Linked DNA regions of Homo sapiens. The protein of the gene in region 2 purifies or fractionates together with the protein of the main gene of each other region. This does not show direct contact. Each region holds a gene or a part of one and is shown on either strand. Other genes may lie near its edges.

Region 1 (3,500 bases), on a different chromosome or scaffold from region 2:
AAATGCATTCTGATAAATGTTATTTGATTTCCTTACATACTAGCAAAATTACTGTAAGTTAATGCTCTGTAAGTGACCCATTATTTCATATTTTGTATTTATTTAAAATGCTAGTTCATGAAAACGGCTACTCTCTAAAGAGACAACAACAAGACTTTTAGAGCCATACTATTACTATTTTCATGTTTTACCAACAACACTGGTAAAACCCCACAGATCTTTATGATCAATAAGTAGTTAATTTAGTTCTGTCATCTAGACTACAAAGTGTGTGTTTGTCTCTCTTTCCTGTCTGCACACATACTGACACACACACATACACACATATATAAATACACATATTTATTATATCAATGCAATTTGCTAGCTAATTTAACTTAGGGGAAAGTTTGAAAAACTGAAGATTCATTTCAATACACAAATTTACATAAAAGGGATATTGCATATTAAAACAAAAATGATTCGACCTAATTCACATACAAGATTTTTCTGACAATGATTCATGATACCTTTAATACCATCAAGTGATCAAAACTACAGTCAATAATAAGGCGAAGGGTGCTATGAACAACATCTCTTCGAACACGTTTTCTGTCATGTCCATCTGAGTTTGGTTCCATTTGACATTGTCGCTCTAATTTTTTCCTCTTGCGTTTTTCTTTTCGCTTTTGTCTAAAATTAGTAATTGAAATAACATTTTGTTATTGTGTATTCAGTTATTTACAAGACTCTTCTAAATAAACAATTCCTTTTAAAAATCATCAGGTTAAATCATATGAAATTGTCACTTCTGTGACCATTCAAAAATGGTCAAGTATTAGCAGTTTTATACAACCCATCTAAAAGCTTCAGATAGGAAGGAAATGAGCTTCCAAAAATGATCTAAAGCTTTCTATCTAAATCCTAACTATACTATCTGAATAGTTTCATTTGTTATTGGTATCATACTATCCCTAACCTTATAAATACTGAGTTTGAGTTATGACGAATTTTATTTTCATAATTTACCTATATGATTTTTAAGCCACATTTATAAGGTATAGAAAAAAGCAAAATAAAATTGTTCATTAAAAAAATTACATACTTTTTCTCTAATTTACACCAACTACAGTTTATTTTCTCTCCATAAATTTTGGCATTTATTACAACGACAAATTTAGCCAAACTGCTTTCACCAAAACCTGCAACAGTTCTTGTGGCAAAATCAATGTCAGGCCAAAACTTGATCTTTCTGAGTTGGCTGTTTTTATTCCATAACTAGCACACAGACACTAATTACATCCCTTATCTAAGTCAGTTGTTTCAAAAATTGTGCTGCTACTCATAATAAGGTTCTGCATTAGAAAAAGTGTTGAGTGCAAGATCATCAACAGTGCTAAAAGAAACCCAAACAATTTTAAAAAATAGTTTTAACAGCCAGTTGACAGTGTTAGCTAACAATATACGTTGTTAGCTTCAATTTTCTTCTCTTGCGTTTTTCTTTACGCTTTTGTCTAAAATTAGTAATTGAATTTTAAGTAACACAATTACATTTAATATGCCAAAGGGCTATGCAAGGTTTAACATTGCATATCTCTAAATAGGAAGAGAGCATATACATTTTGAAACACATACTTGCGGAGTTCCCGTTGCTCTTCCCATTGTTTCTGTTTTATTAGTTTTTTCATTTGTCGTTTAGATATTGGTTCACACCCTTCACCTAATCTTGGCTTCTGGCTCTCCTCTTGATCTTCATTTATGCCTTGCTTTTTGTCAACATTAGAAGTTTCAATAAATGCTGGCAACATTTCAGATGACATTATTTGGTGCCTCTGAAAAACAACTTTTGACATGAATAGATAATTTACAAGCACAAAAAAGTTAAAAAACTCAAATAATCAATATGATTAAAGTTAAACCATAAAATAATATAAATAAAACTTTAGACAAATAAATGTCATTTAATTGTAAATATCATTTAAATACCATTTAATATCAATTAAATATTCAGCAATGCTAGTAAAGGTCTAAAGAAATGGGGTGTTTCATATACTACTGGTGGTCATGGTACAATTTTTCCAGAAGGCAACACATATATATGTTTTAAGAGCTTCAAAATCTCTATTTAGACACCCTTTGACTCAGTATTTCCTTAAATTTCTGTAAATAAATCAGAAATGCACACAAAAATGTGCACAAGAGTATATGCAATGCAGTGTTATTTTTAACAGTGAAAAGTTAGAAACCTCCTGAATGTCAGTGAAAGGAAACTAAACAATTACGGTTAATCTATAACATGGGCAAGGAATATTAAGCAGCCAGAAAAACTTATATATCCAAAAATATTTAATGATAAGGGGAAACGGTTATACATTAAACAAAATCAAAGAAAACAATATATACATTACGACCAACTTTTTTAAAAAGGTATACACACACACGTTTAATTCTTACCCACAGTTTTCTGCATTTTCTAAAGTTATATAATGAAAATATATTGTTTTTAATAAAACAAAAAATTTTAAAAAGAGATGAAAAGCATCTTTTCTATAGTCTTTTTTAATGCTGTAGAATGAGGGAAACTACAAAAAGACAGAACTGATTTTTAAAACTGAAATCAATAACCAAGAAATAAATTCACTTGATACAAATTAAAAATAGGGCAATCAAAATGACTTTAAAATAAATTTGGCTGAAATATTTCAGAGAGGTCATAAGGGAATAAGAAGTATAAGAACAAGACAGAAAGTTGTGATATAAAAGCAGGCTTTACTAAAAAGTAAAACAAGAATCAGTGAAAAAGAACAGAATCAGTGAAAAAGAATCTGTGAAAACTAGGAAATGAAGACATAAAAAGTTCAATAGAAGAGACAAACTCCAGATTATCTGGAGTCCCAAGAAGTAACTGATGACTTAGAAGACAATCTGACTCAGGATGCAGACACAAATAGAACAGAAAAATAATATGGAGGAGCAGTAAAGACTTGGATAACAGAATAAGAGAGATACAGGAAAAAAAGGTAATTAGAGATAAACATATAGCCTTGAATGCATTCATTAATTTTTTTAAAAAAAATCTAGAAAGTAAGGTAAGCATTCAATTTAAGAAACTGGAGGTGGGGAAACTGAATAAGCCTAAAAAGGCTAGATGGAAAAAAATTAAAAAATATGTATTTTGATCCCCTGGATCACTTTTATTTTCCTTTCTTGCAATACACAATACATTAAATAAAATTCAGCTATGCAGGTATCCAAAACGACACCGAGTGGAGGAAACTTAAAAGCACAATTAAAATTCACAGGAAACAAATTGCTCTCTTCATGAAATAATAATATTCCAAGAGAGTACATTTCTGTTTATCAGTGGCATCATTTTCAGTTAGTTCTCTATTTTATTCAAAAACGGCATGTGTTGATTAGCTCTATGTGAAGATTTTTTTTTTTTTTTTGGAGACAGAGTCTTGCTCTGTCACCCAGGCTGGAGTGCAGTGGCGCGATCTCCGTTCACTGCAACCTCCGCC
Region 2 (3,542 bases):
GCTCCACCCCAGGTTGCAGCTCAGCAGCAGGAGTCAGCTACGACCCAGAAGGCTGAACGGGAGGTGAGCCGCATGGTGGTTGTGATGGTAGGATCCTTCTGTGTCTGCTACGTGCCCTACGCGGCCTTCGCCATGTACATGGTCAACAACCGTAACCATGGGCTGGACTTACGGCTTGTCACCATTCCTTCATTCTTCTCCAAGAGTGCTTGCATCTACAATCCCATCATCTACTGCTTCATGAATAAGCAGGTAAAGCTCTTTATTCACATTCCTATGGTCCAGAAGACCCTGGTTCTTTTCTCACCATTGACTTTTAACTCAGAGCACCCTGGACTCTACCCAGGTTTCTAGTAGACGAGGGAAGCCACAAAACCCCCGAGTAGGTTGGGAAGCCTTTGGTAAGCACAGGGAGGAAGGCACGGTTATCAAGACGAGAAAATAGAACCCCGGAGGAAAGAACTTGAGTCAGGAAAATGAAGTTGCTCCAAAGAACAGGATGAATGAAAGCATTTTATTGAAAAACTCGTGCAGCAAACCACCATGGCACACGTTTACCTATGTAACAAACCTGCACATCCTGCACATGTATCCTGGAACTTAAATAAAATTAAAAAAATAAAAATAAAAACTCAGATTCCTCTCAATTTTCAGTCCTTGCATTTAATAATTTCTTAATCATTTCCCTTCCAACTTTTAGCCTGCACGAGCATGTGTGAAGCACAGAAATCATACCACATGCAAAAATCTCTAAAATATCTTATCATCTGAAGGTACTGGGGGATTTCCTATCCCATCTGAAATCCGAGCTAATAAACACCAAACCCTAAGTGGCAAAAACCCTACTTTCAGATGGTATTGTTTCCTCAATCCCAGAGGTAGACTCAAAACTAATTTGAAACCTCCCTGGATAGAAGAGAATTGGCAGTCCTTTCCAGCTGGGAGCACCTGCTAGTAATGGAGGGGCCTCTGCTGACAGTGCTTTTATGAAGCAGGATGGTTTGTGAATTTACCAACAGTGAGGTCTCAGACTTGACCAGTTTAGGATTACCGTAGACCCAGGAGTAGTTCTAGACTGGAATCTAGATAGTTTTCAGGATGGGGAAGATAGATTCAAAACCACCTAAGGGCATTCTGGGTACAAAGCATTGTGCAAGGCTTTGGTGATACAGAGAATAAGGTCTTTTTTCCCATACTTCCTCATCTGCCAAGGTTATCTCCAATTGTACCTTTCTCTCCAGTTCCAAGCTTGCATCATGAAGATGGTGTGTGGGAAGGCCATGACAGATGAATCCGACACATGCAGCTCCCAGAAAACAGAAGTTTCTACTGTCTCGTCTACCCAAGTTGGCCCCAACTGAGGACCCAATATTGGCCTGTTTGCAACAGCTAGAATTAAATTTTACTTTTAAGTAAGTTTCTATTGTCTCCGTCAGAAACCAAACTACTAAAAACACAAAAAAGATGGTAAAAGGAGTGATGGCAGTTTGGGGAGTCAATTTTTCATTTTCTTACTATTGCCTTCTTGCCTACAAAGCTACTGTTTCCACTGGTCTATTTCAGACCACCCAAAGGCCATTTCAACAATCATCAGTTTCTACTCCTAAGTGGCACCATTCACAGCACTTGGAGAACTGATTTCTACATACAAGGCAACCAAAAAGGAATATGCTTTAAGTTTTCAGTGTATGGATACTTTCCTTTTTAGTAACTTTTTTTTTTTTTCCTGCTGGGGATCCATTCTGAGATGATATATGCTGAATTAGAACAAACTTAAGAAAACACTTTAGAAATGGGAGAGACATAAAGAAAAAACAAAACAAAACAAAAAAAAAAACAAAAAAAACTCAGTGGCCCCAAATATGAGTTTGAAAGAACTTTTGGATAACTGCTACAGCTTTGGCAGGAACAGCCATGTCCACAAGCCCCTGAGCAAGCACAAATTATTCCAGGTGCTTCCTCCCCGTTGCATTTGGCTAAACCTTTATATTTGTCTTAAACTGTGTGTTTACTAAAGTTAATAGTTTAATTCTCTCGAGGTTCTCAAAATGAATTTGCATGTTTTAATAACATTTGTAAACAATACCAAAATGTTAAACAAAATTGTTTTACCTTATGCTCTATAGATAAACGTGTGTGTACATTCAGAATCGCTTGTGTTTGGTATCAGATAATTATATAACGAGCAGCAGGTCTCTCCAGTTATACGGCCTAATGGAAGTAAAAAAGGGTTATGGCTGTGGTGAGAAGGATGCTAGAAAATACCAGAAAACAGGGAGAAAAGAATAATCATTTAGGAGAAGGCAGTGCTGTCTCTGAGTTTGGGAGAACTTCGAGGAGAGTTCCCATTCTGACATTTTAGAGCATCCATAATTCTAAGCTAGAGTTCTATTTCTTGGAAAATGAAGGTCATACATACCCCATAATGAATGTAAACAGTTTTATTTAGAAACAGATAGGTACCTGTTCGCATTGCAGAATATAAAACTTGGTTTACACTCTATAAAAAATAACCAATATCCAAATTCAAGAGAGCTAGCATTCACAGAACACACAATATGGGTGTGTAGCTACTGTTCACCAGCCTCAGGCTTGATTTAAACAAACAAACAAAAAAAAAATTTCAAAGGGATCATTCAAGATGACCGTATAATGCTTGCTGCTGTCTTTGCAGATTAAGGTTTGCTTTTCAAGTGCATGATTTTAACATAAGGCCTGGGCTCTCTGCACCTAGTGAGGTGTGAGGCTCTCTTGCCACACAGTTCACACTCTCACTTAACTAAGCCAGAGTTGGTGGCATTATTAAATTATCACTGGTCTTCTTAATAGTAAAAATGGGGAACCCAGAGGGCAGGAAATTTCCATTACCCTATATTGGGGCTAAACTTAAAAGAGTATATCCACTATCAAGAGCTTAGTACAAAGGCTGGGGTGAAGTTACATTATACCTGGCTTTTTACCATACCAGGGAGCCCACCTCAACATGACTGTGGAAGACCAAAGGATATACCTAGGTTCAGATTATAATAAATCACCCAGCACCACCTGAATGTATTATCCACAAAGATATAGCAATAATAAAGGTTATATATACATATATTTATCTTGGTAACCTGAGGGCTAAAAACGTGGAATACGATAATTCTTCTCAAGAGGTCCATCTGTAAGAAAGGGACCCAAAAGGACAGTGTTTGTGTTGCATAAAATATGGGTAAAGTGGAGTTGGGAACAAAGGGTGGTTTCTTTAGCTCTTTCCACATCTCTCTTTGATAAGGACTGAAACCCTGTTGATTCATGATAAACGTTTCCTTTTTTTTTTTTTTTGGCAGCGGGGAGAGGGAAAGAGGAGGAAATGGGGTGTGATGGGTCAAAGGCAGGAAAGGTAAGCCATGGTCCTCAAACCAAAGAGCCCTCTCTGTAGGTCCTCTGATCTTTGAGTGTGAGCTCAAGCTCTCCAGTGGACACAGAAAAAGGCCTGGTAGTAAGTGGTTTGCATTGTGAGGTATGAGGATCCCTGGTAAATTCAGCAGCATGTGGTTTTT
Region 3 (3,500 bases), on a different chromosome or scaffold from region 2:
AGCGTGTAATCGGGAGGCTGAGGTGGGAGAATTGCTTGAACTTGGGAGTCGAAGGCTGCAGTAAGCTGAGATCACGCCACTTCACTCCAGCCTGGGTGACAGAGTGAGACCCTGTCTCAAAAAAAAAGAAAAGAAAAAAAAAGGCTGAATAGGGGTTTATCAAGCAAAAGGAAAGCCACACCCAGTTGAGTGAATAGCAGGTGGTGGCTGAGGTGGGAGGATCGCTTGAGCCTGGGAGTTCAAGGCTGCAATGAACTATGATCATGCCACTGAATTCCAGCCTGGGCAACAGAGCGAAGCTCTGTCTCAAAAAAAAAAAAAAAAAAGTGGGGGGTGGAGGTGATGGGAGAACAAAGAATGTCTGTGAAACTGCAAAAGCAGGAGCAAGAATGAGGAAGAGGCTGGGAAATTCAGTGGGGTTCGGCCGTGGAAGTGTGTCCTTTGTTCCCGACGTAGCTGCCACGTAGCAACTGCTTTGGGTGCTGTTTCAAACTAAAAAGCCCAATTCCACCTCTGATCATTGCTATACCTTTGAGATGGTATTTCTGGAGGAACCAGGGGAATCAGGTGAGAGGCAGGCTCTGTATTTATTTATACAACTATGCTCAGATCTCGCTAAGAAGAGCCTCATGTTCTATCTCTATCCTCCTGAGATGGAGATCAAAGATGGTGCTCAGACCCCATGGAAGAGGACTCAAGAGTGTGCAGGAGAAATCCAGCTCTTTCTGTAGGGGAAAAACCCTGGCTGCCAGGCACCAACGCTACTGTTAAATAAAGGGCAGATTCCCCATAACCTGACAGGCTCCTGCATCCCTCGGGAGAAGAAAAGAACAAAGTCCAGCAAGCCACCCTCCAGCTCAAGCCAACCACCTACCTTTTCAGATGCAGCCTCCAGAGATTTCAGATTGTTAGTAACATTCTTGAGTTCTTCTTCCAGGTCACCACATTTTCTGCACAAAGACAAAGGATTTTTGTGTCTTATCTTCCCTTACAGCCGGCAATAATAGCAATCGCCCCAACAATAAATTTTCCAAAGGAGAAACCTACACAGCTCCCCCGGTGGGGGGCAGAAGGAATGTGGGGAGAAAATGTTAATGGATTTTTCTGCAGTGTGATACTATGGGCTTATCAAAGGCTTATCATACCAGGCAGAGGCGAGGTGCGCCCGAAGAGTATTTGGAGGGCTTGGAAAACACTCCTGGTCTTTTGCCAAGGGTAAGGCTGCAAGGACTTGTGAAATCTATGATTGATGAGGCCGACTCCGGAAGGTGTAAGAATGGGACTGAGGGCAGAAGGCGGGCAGAGAGCAATGGGAGTTTGCAGGGGACACTCCGGGAAGGAAGCCCGGAGTGGATTTGTGAAACCAGATCTCTCTCAGCACTCCCGGATGCTCTGTGGGGCTGAATTCCTCACCCGGGGCCAAGAGGACAGGTGTTTTGTTTTTCGGTGCTTGCTTGTGGGATTCTGGTTAAGCTTCTCACCTTCCCGCCAGGAATGTGTCACGGCCAAACACTGACAGGAGCAAAAGCATTTACATACTGACCGGGGGAGCCTGCCTTCTGGAGCAGGTCAGTGTTCTGTTAAGATGGCACAGCCCCCTGAGATATCCTCTCTGGGAAAATGGGACTTCTGGGCTTCCCTGCTGCCTCCTGTCTCACTCCTATTTCCTCATATCTTTGCAGAAAGGGTCAACACGTGGGCAGTGCTTCCCATGGCAGTAAGAACAAGTCACCACCTCTTTGTCACAGAAGCCAAGAGAAAAGATGAGCCATGAGCCCCTGACGCCCGTCCACTTGAGCAGAGACCCCGGTCAGAGCCAATTCCCAACACAGCCAGCTCCTTCCCACTCCGCCCCAGGAATCGAGCCAGCCTCGCTCAGTCCTGTTCTGCCACTCACAGTTCAGACACCTCCGCACGCTCCTCTGCCCTCTCCAGCTCACCCTCCAGGATGACCAGCTTACGAGCTACCTGCAGAGACAGAAAGGCCCAGCTGAGCCCGATCCCCACCAGCCGTGTCCTCTCCCATCCACTGCAGACAGCCCCCAATGATGCCCCACCCAGACCCCTAGACCAGCTGCAACATGGGTTTTTCTGGTGTTTCTTTTTTTTGCAGGGGGACGGAGTCTCCCTCTGTTGCCCAGGCTGGAGTGCAGTGGCACAGTCTCGGCTCACTGCAACCTCCACCTCCTGGGTTCAAGCGATTCTCCTGCCTCAGCCTTCCAAGTAGCTGGGACTACAGGCGCGTGCCACCACGCCCAGCTAATTTTTGTATTTTCAGTCGAGATGGGGTTTCACCGTAGTGGCCAGGCTGGTCTCGAATTCCTGACCTCCTGATCCACCTACCTCGGCCTCCCAGAGTGCTGGGATTATAGGCATGAGCCACCACACCTGGCCTCTTTTTTATTTTTTTATTCTTTTGAGACAGAGTCTCGCTCCATCACCCAGGCTGAAATGCAGTGGCTCAACCTTGACTCACTGCAACCTCTGCCTCCTGGGTTCAAGTGAATCTCCTGTCTCAGCCTTCCAAATAGCTGGGCTTACAGGCATGCACGACCATGCCCGGCTAATTTTTGTATTTTTTGTAGAGACAGGGTTTCACCACGTTGGCCAGGCTGGTCATGAACTCCTGACCTCAGGTGATCTGCCTGCCTTGGCCTCCCAAAGTGCTGGGATTACCGGCGTGAGCCACCATGCCCAGCCCTTTTATGTTTTTGACAGAGGGTCTTGCTCTGTCTCCAAGGCTGGAGTGCAGTGGCGTGGTCAGAGCTCACTGCAGCCTTGACTTCCCAGGTTCAAGCGATCCTCCTGCCTCAGCCTCCCAAGTAGCTGGGACTACAGGTGCATGCCACCACACCCAGCTAATTATTATTATTATTATTTTTAGAAATGGGGTCTCACTATGTTGCCCAGGCTGGTCTCAAACTCCTGGCCTCAGGTGATCCTCCCGCCTCGGTCGAAGTGCTGGGGTTACAGGTACGAGCCACCGCGCCTGGCCTTTTGCTGGCGCTTCAACTGAAAGAGCCATCCTGGGGCCTGGAGGAAATCCTGATTCTCTTCCTCAAGCCTGAGGAGCGAGGCAGACAAGAGGCGGGAGGGAAGAGCCGAGCCATCGAGGGAGGCAAAGGAGGGCCTGAGCTTGCATGGTCTGAAACTCCATGGCTTGGGACCACAATCCTCCATTTTTGCCCAACTGTGCCAAAACTCCCAGCTAACGACACAAGTGAGCTGATCATTCGGTTTTCCCATTACGTTAGACAAGCGTCCGCAGCACTTTCTGGCATCGTGGGAGATAGTTTCCTAGCCAAGTGGTTGTCTCTGGACAAACATATGTTCACGCAGGAGGACAGCTGACCTAACCGAGAGCTTCCTTTCGTTGGCCCCGGTGTCCTCCCTATCTCAGCAGATGCATTTCCTCCCACTTCCTGCTGCTGCGCCATCTGCCAGCCCCACTCACCTCCTCGTATTTGCGGTCAGCCTCTTCCGCAATGTGCTTGGCCTCT
Region 4 (2,398 bases), on a different chromosome or scaffold from region 2:
CCAGAGACCCAGCAGAGCAAGGATCCTTTCCTCAGAGCTGGATATGCCCTCTTTAACCTGCTGGTCCCCACTTTGCCAACAGGGCCCCTCCAGGCCCCATGTGCCTGATCCCAGTGCCCAGGCTGCTCCTCACCCAGCCCATTCCTGCCCCACCTTGCGGCACCGGGCCCACCTCATCAGCCAGCAGGGCCAGCTCACTGCTGTCGGCTGCCTCGTAGTCATAGAGCACCCGAGCTTTGCGGGTCCCACTGGCAGGGGGGGCCACCTCTTCCAGGCAGAGCGAGGCCTCCCCCGGAGGGGCCAGGCTGGCCACAGAGGGCACCACAGGCATAGTGGCCGCAGCAGTGGTGGGTGAGGTGCTGCTCAGGGGTGGGGAGGCGGGCTCTGTGGTGCCCACGAAGGTGCCGGGAAATCTGGAGAGGAGGGATACATCTTAGCAGGTGGGAGTCCCAGAAGGGACCCCAGAGGCAAACTCCCCTCCCCAGCCCCAGGAGCCCCACTCCAGCCCCGGCTACTCACATGGCACCCTGGGAGCTGGCAGCACAAAGGGAAAAGCAAAGCAAGGGAAGGGTGAGATGGCCCCACCCCCTGGTCCCTGCCATCCTCCCCACCCAGGCATTCCCTAGAAACCCTCAGGGGCTCCAGGGGACTTGGCCGTCAGTAAGGCCAGCCACTCCACCCTCATACACATGAGATGCCCGCACCCAGAGTGGGTTCCAGCAGAGCCCTCCAACCCAGCTTTGTGTCACAGGACTTGCCCAGAGGAGCTCATGCTGCCCACGGACAGGGTATGGGAGCCAGGGGGCCCCAGTGGGTTCAGCAGTGCTGGCCCCGCACCTGCCCAGCTGCTTCTGCAAGTCCAGCATGTGGCGGTAGCACTGTGCGTAGTAGGTTGTCTGAGACTTGACGAACTCGTGGAGGCAGCGCAGGTGGTTCACCTGCGGGGAAGAGGCCAGAGGCTGACTTCTAACCTCCCGCCCTCAGAACAAAAAATTCCGTCCCCATCCCCGTCCTCTACCAGACCTTGCTCCGGCATTCCAGGGTGCCCTGCCCCTGCGCCCACACCCTCCCCGGTGGGACTTGCTCTGTGAGGGCCATTCTGGGGCAGCCCTGCTGACCTTGTGGTTCAGGCACACCTGGTGCCTGCTGAGGGTTAGGTTTAGTGAGGGTGGGCAGTGGGACTCACGTGAGTGCTACTGATTCCCTCCAGCAAGAGACGGGTCACTTCTGCTTGCCGGTCAAACTCTGTCTGGGCCACGCGGAGCTCCTGCTCGGCCTGGGCAGGGCAGGGCAGCCATGAGCACCCACACACCACCCACCAGCTTCCCCGCAGTCTTCTCCTGGAGCCTACCTGGGAGCCGCCTGTCCCTTTCCCCTGGGAACACAGAGAGCCTTCTGGGTCTATGCCTGACTTCACACCTGGAGCCCCAACCCCAGAGAAGCTAGAGCCCCACTCAGGACCCCACAGGCAGCTGCAGTGACAGACCCTTCCTCCATCACCCATCGGAGAAATCCACCCAGCAAGTGCATCCTGAGGGCCTACTGTGTGCTACAGGGTACTGTGGAGAAAACATTTCCCCACAGAGGGGAAACTGAGGCCCAGGGAGGGAAAGCAGTAACCCCTCCCCAGTGGGTGTGGGGCAGAGTGAGAAACAGATCAGACCCCACAGCAGCAAGTGTGCCTGCACCCCGCCACCCCTTCTTCCTCGAGCCCAGCCCCCCAGGCCCCAACTTACCTTGTCCACTTCATCATTCCAGAGCTGTGGAGACGGCAGCAGGAGTGGCCAGCAGGGGAGGGGAGAGGAGGACAGCTGGACCCTAGAGCCTGTGCCCTGCCCCAGCTCCCAGACTCAACTTCTGCCCCCCTGCCCCTCTGCCCCCCCTCCCAAACAGGAGCTGAGACTGGGCCGAGGCCCGGCATGGGAGCTGGGGGCTGGCGGTCCCAGTCCCTCTAACATGCCTCATGCAGGAGGGGAGCAGCCAGCAGGAGTCCTGCTTATATTTCTCCTACAGTGTCAGCCCCATTCTCTGAGTGGGGTCTCAAGAGAGACGGAGTGTCCCCACCCCATCCTGACTGCTGGCTCAGGCTGCTGGGCTGGGCGGCAGAACTGTGTGACCCTGGGCCAGTCACTGAAGCTTTCTGTCCTCTGGCAGAGAAAGGTGGCCTCGTGCTTGAGTCACACTGGGACTCAATGGCAAAAGAAAAACAGGGCAGTCTCCACCCTCTAGGATGTTTCTCCTTCCACTGGGCACAGGGAGGAGGCGGGAAGTGGCATCCAGACCCTGAAGAAGAAAGACGCTGCCCGGCCACGACCAGGAGACCCAGCGCTCCTGCCGCTTCCGGAGATCTGACCCGAGACAACAGCCTGAAATAGGGAATGCGGACCCAGGCCAGTGT

What was found. Proteins that work in one complex are often made in the same cells at the same time.
Region 1: the proteins of CALU (region 2) and TRMT10A fractionate together in Homo sapiens (co-fractionation; one large-scale study listed by BioGRID). This does not show direct contact.
Region 3: the proteins of CALU (region 2) and TPM4 fractionate together in Homo sapiens (co-fractionation; one large-scale study listed by BioGRID). This does not show direct contact.
Region 4: the proteins of CALU (region 2) and SH3GLB2 fractionate together in Homo sapiens (co-fractionation; one large-scale study listed by BioGRID). This does not show direct contact.

The regions. Positions count from the first base shown.
Region 1 is NC_000004.12:99,557,540-99,561,039, forward strand, and holds part of TRMT10A (tRNA methyltransferase 10 homolog A), read right to left. Parts: intron 1,823-3,500; 5' UTR 1,800-1,822; coding exon 1,615-1,799; intron 673-1,614; coding exon 510-672; intron 1-509. UniProt on the Homo sapiens protein: S-adenosyl-L-methionine-dependent guanine N(1)-methyltransferase that catalyzes the formation of N(1)-methylguanine at position 9 (m1G9) in tRNAs. Probably not able to catalyze formation of N(1)-methyladenine at position 9 (m1A9) in tRNAs.
Region 2 is NC_000007.14:128,770,359-128,773,900, reverse strand, and holds the end of CALU (calumenin isoform a precursor), read right to left. Parts: 3' UTR 1,362-3,542; coding exon of another isoform or gene 1,242-1,361; 3' UTR 501-1,241; downstream 1-500. Other genes in the region: OPN1SW (short-wave-sensitive opsin 1), read left to right, coding at 13-252, 1,242-1,361. UniProt on the Homo sapiens protein: Involved in regulation of vitamin K-dependent carboxylation of multiple N-terminal glutamate residues. Seems to inhibit gamma-carboxylase GGCX. Binds 7 calcium ions with a low affinity.
Region 3 is NC_000019.10:16,086,495-16,089,994, reverse strand, and holds part of TPM4 (tropomyosin alpha-4 chain), read right to left. Parts: coding exon 3,455-3,500; intron 1,969-3,454; coding exon 1,898-1,968; intron 951-1,897; coding exon 875-950; intron 1-874. UniProt on the Homo sapiens protein: Binds to actin filaments in muscle and non-muscle cells. Plays a central role, in association with the troponin complex, in the calcium dependent regulation of vertebrate striated muscle contraction.
Region 4 is NC_000009.12:129,008,934-129,011,331, forward strand, and holds part of SH3GLB2 (endophilin-B2), read right to left. Parts: intron 1,833-2,398; coding exon of another isoform or gene 1,761-1,832; coding exon 1,737-1,760; intron 1,277-1,736; coding exon 1,187-1,276; intron 939-1,186; coding exon 838-938; intron 535-837; coding exon of another isoform or gene 520-534; intron 414-519; coding exon 173-413; intron 1-172.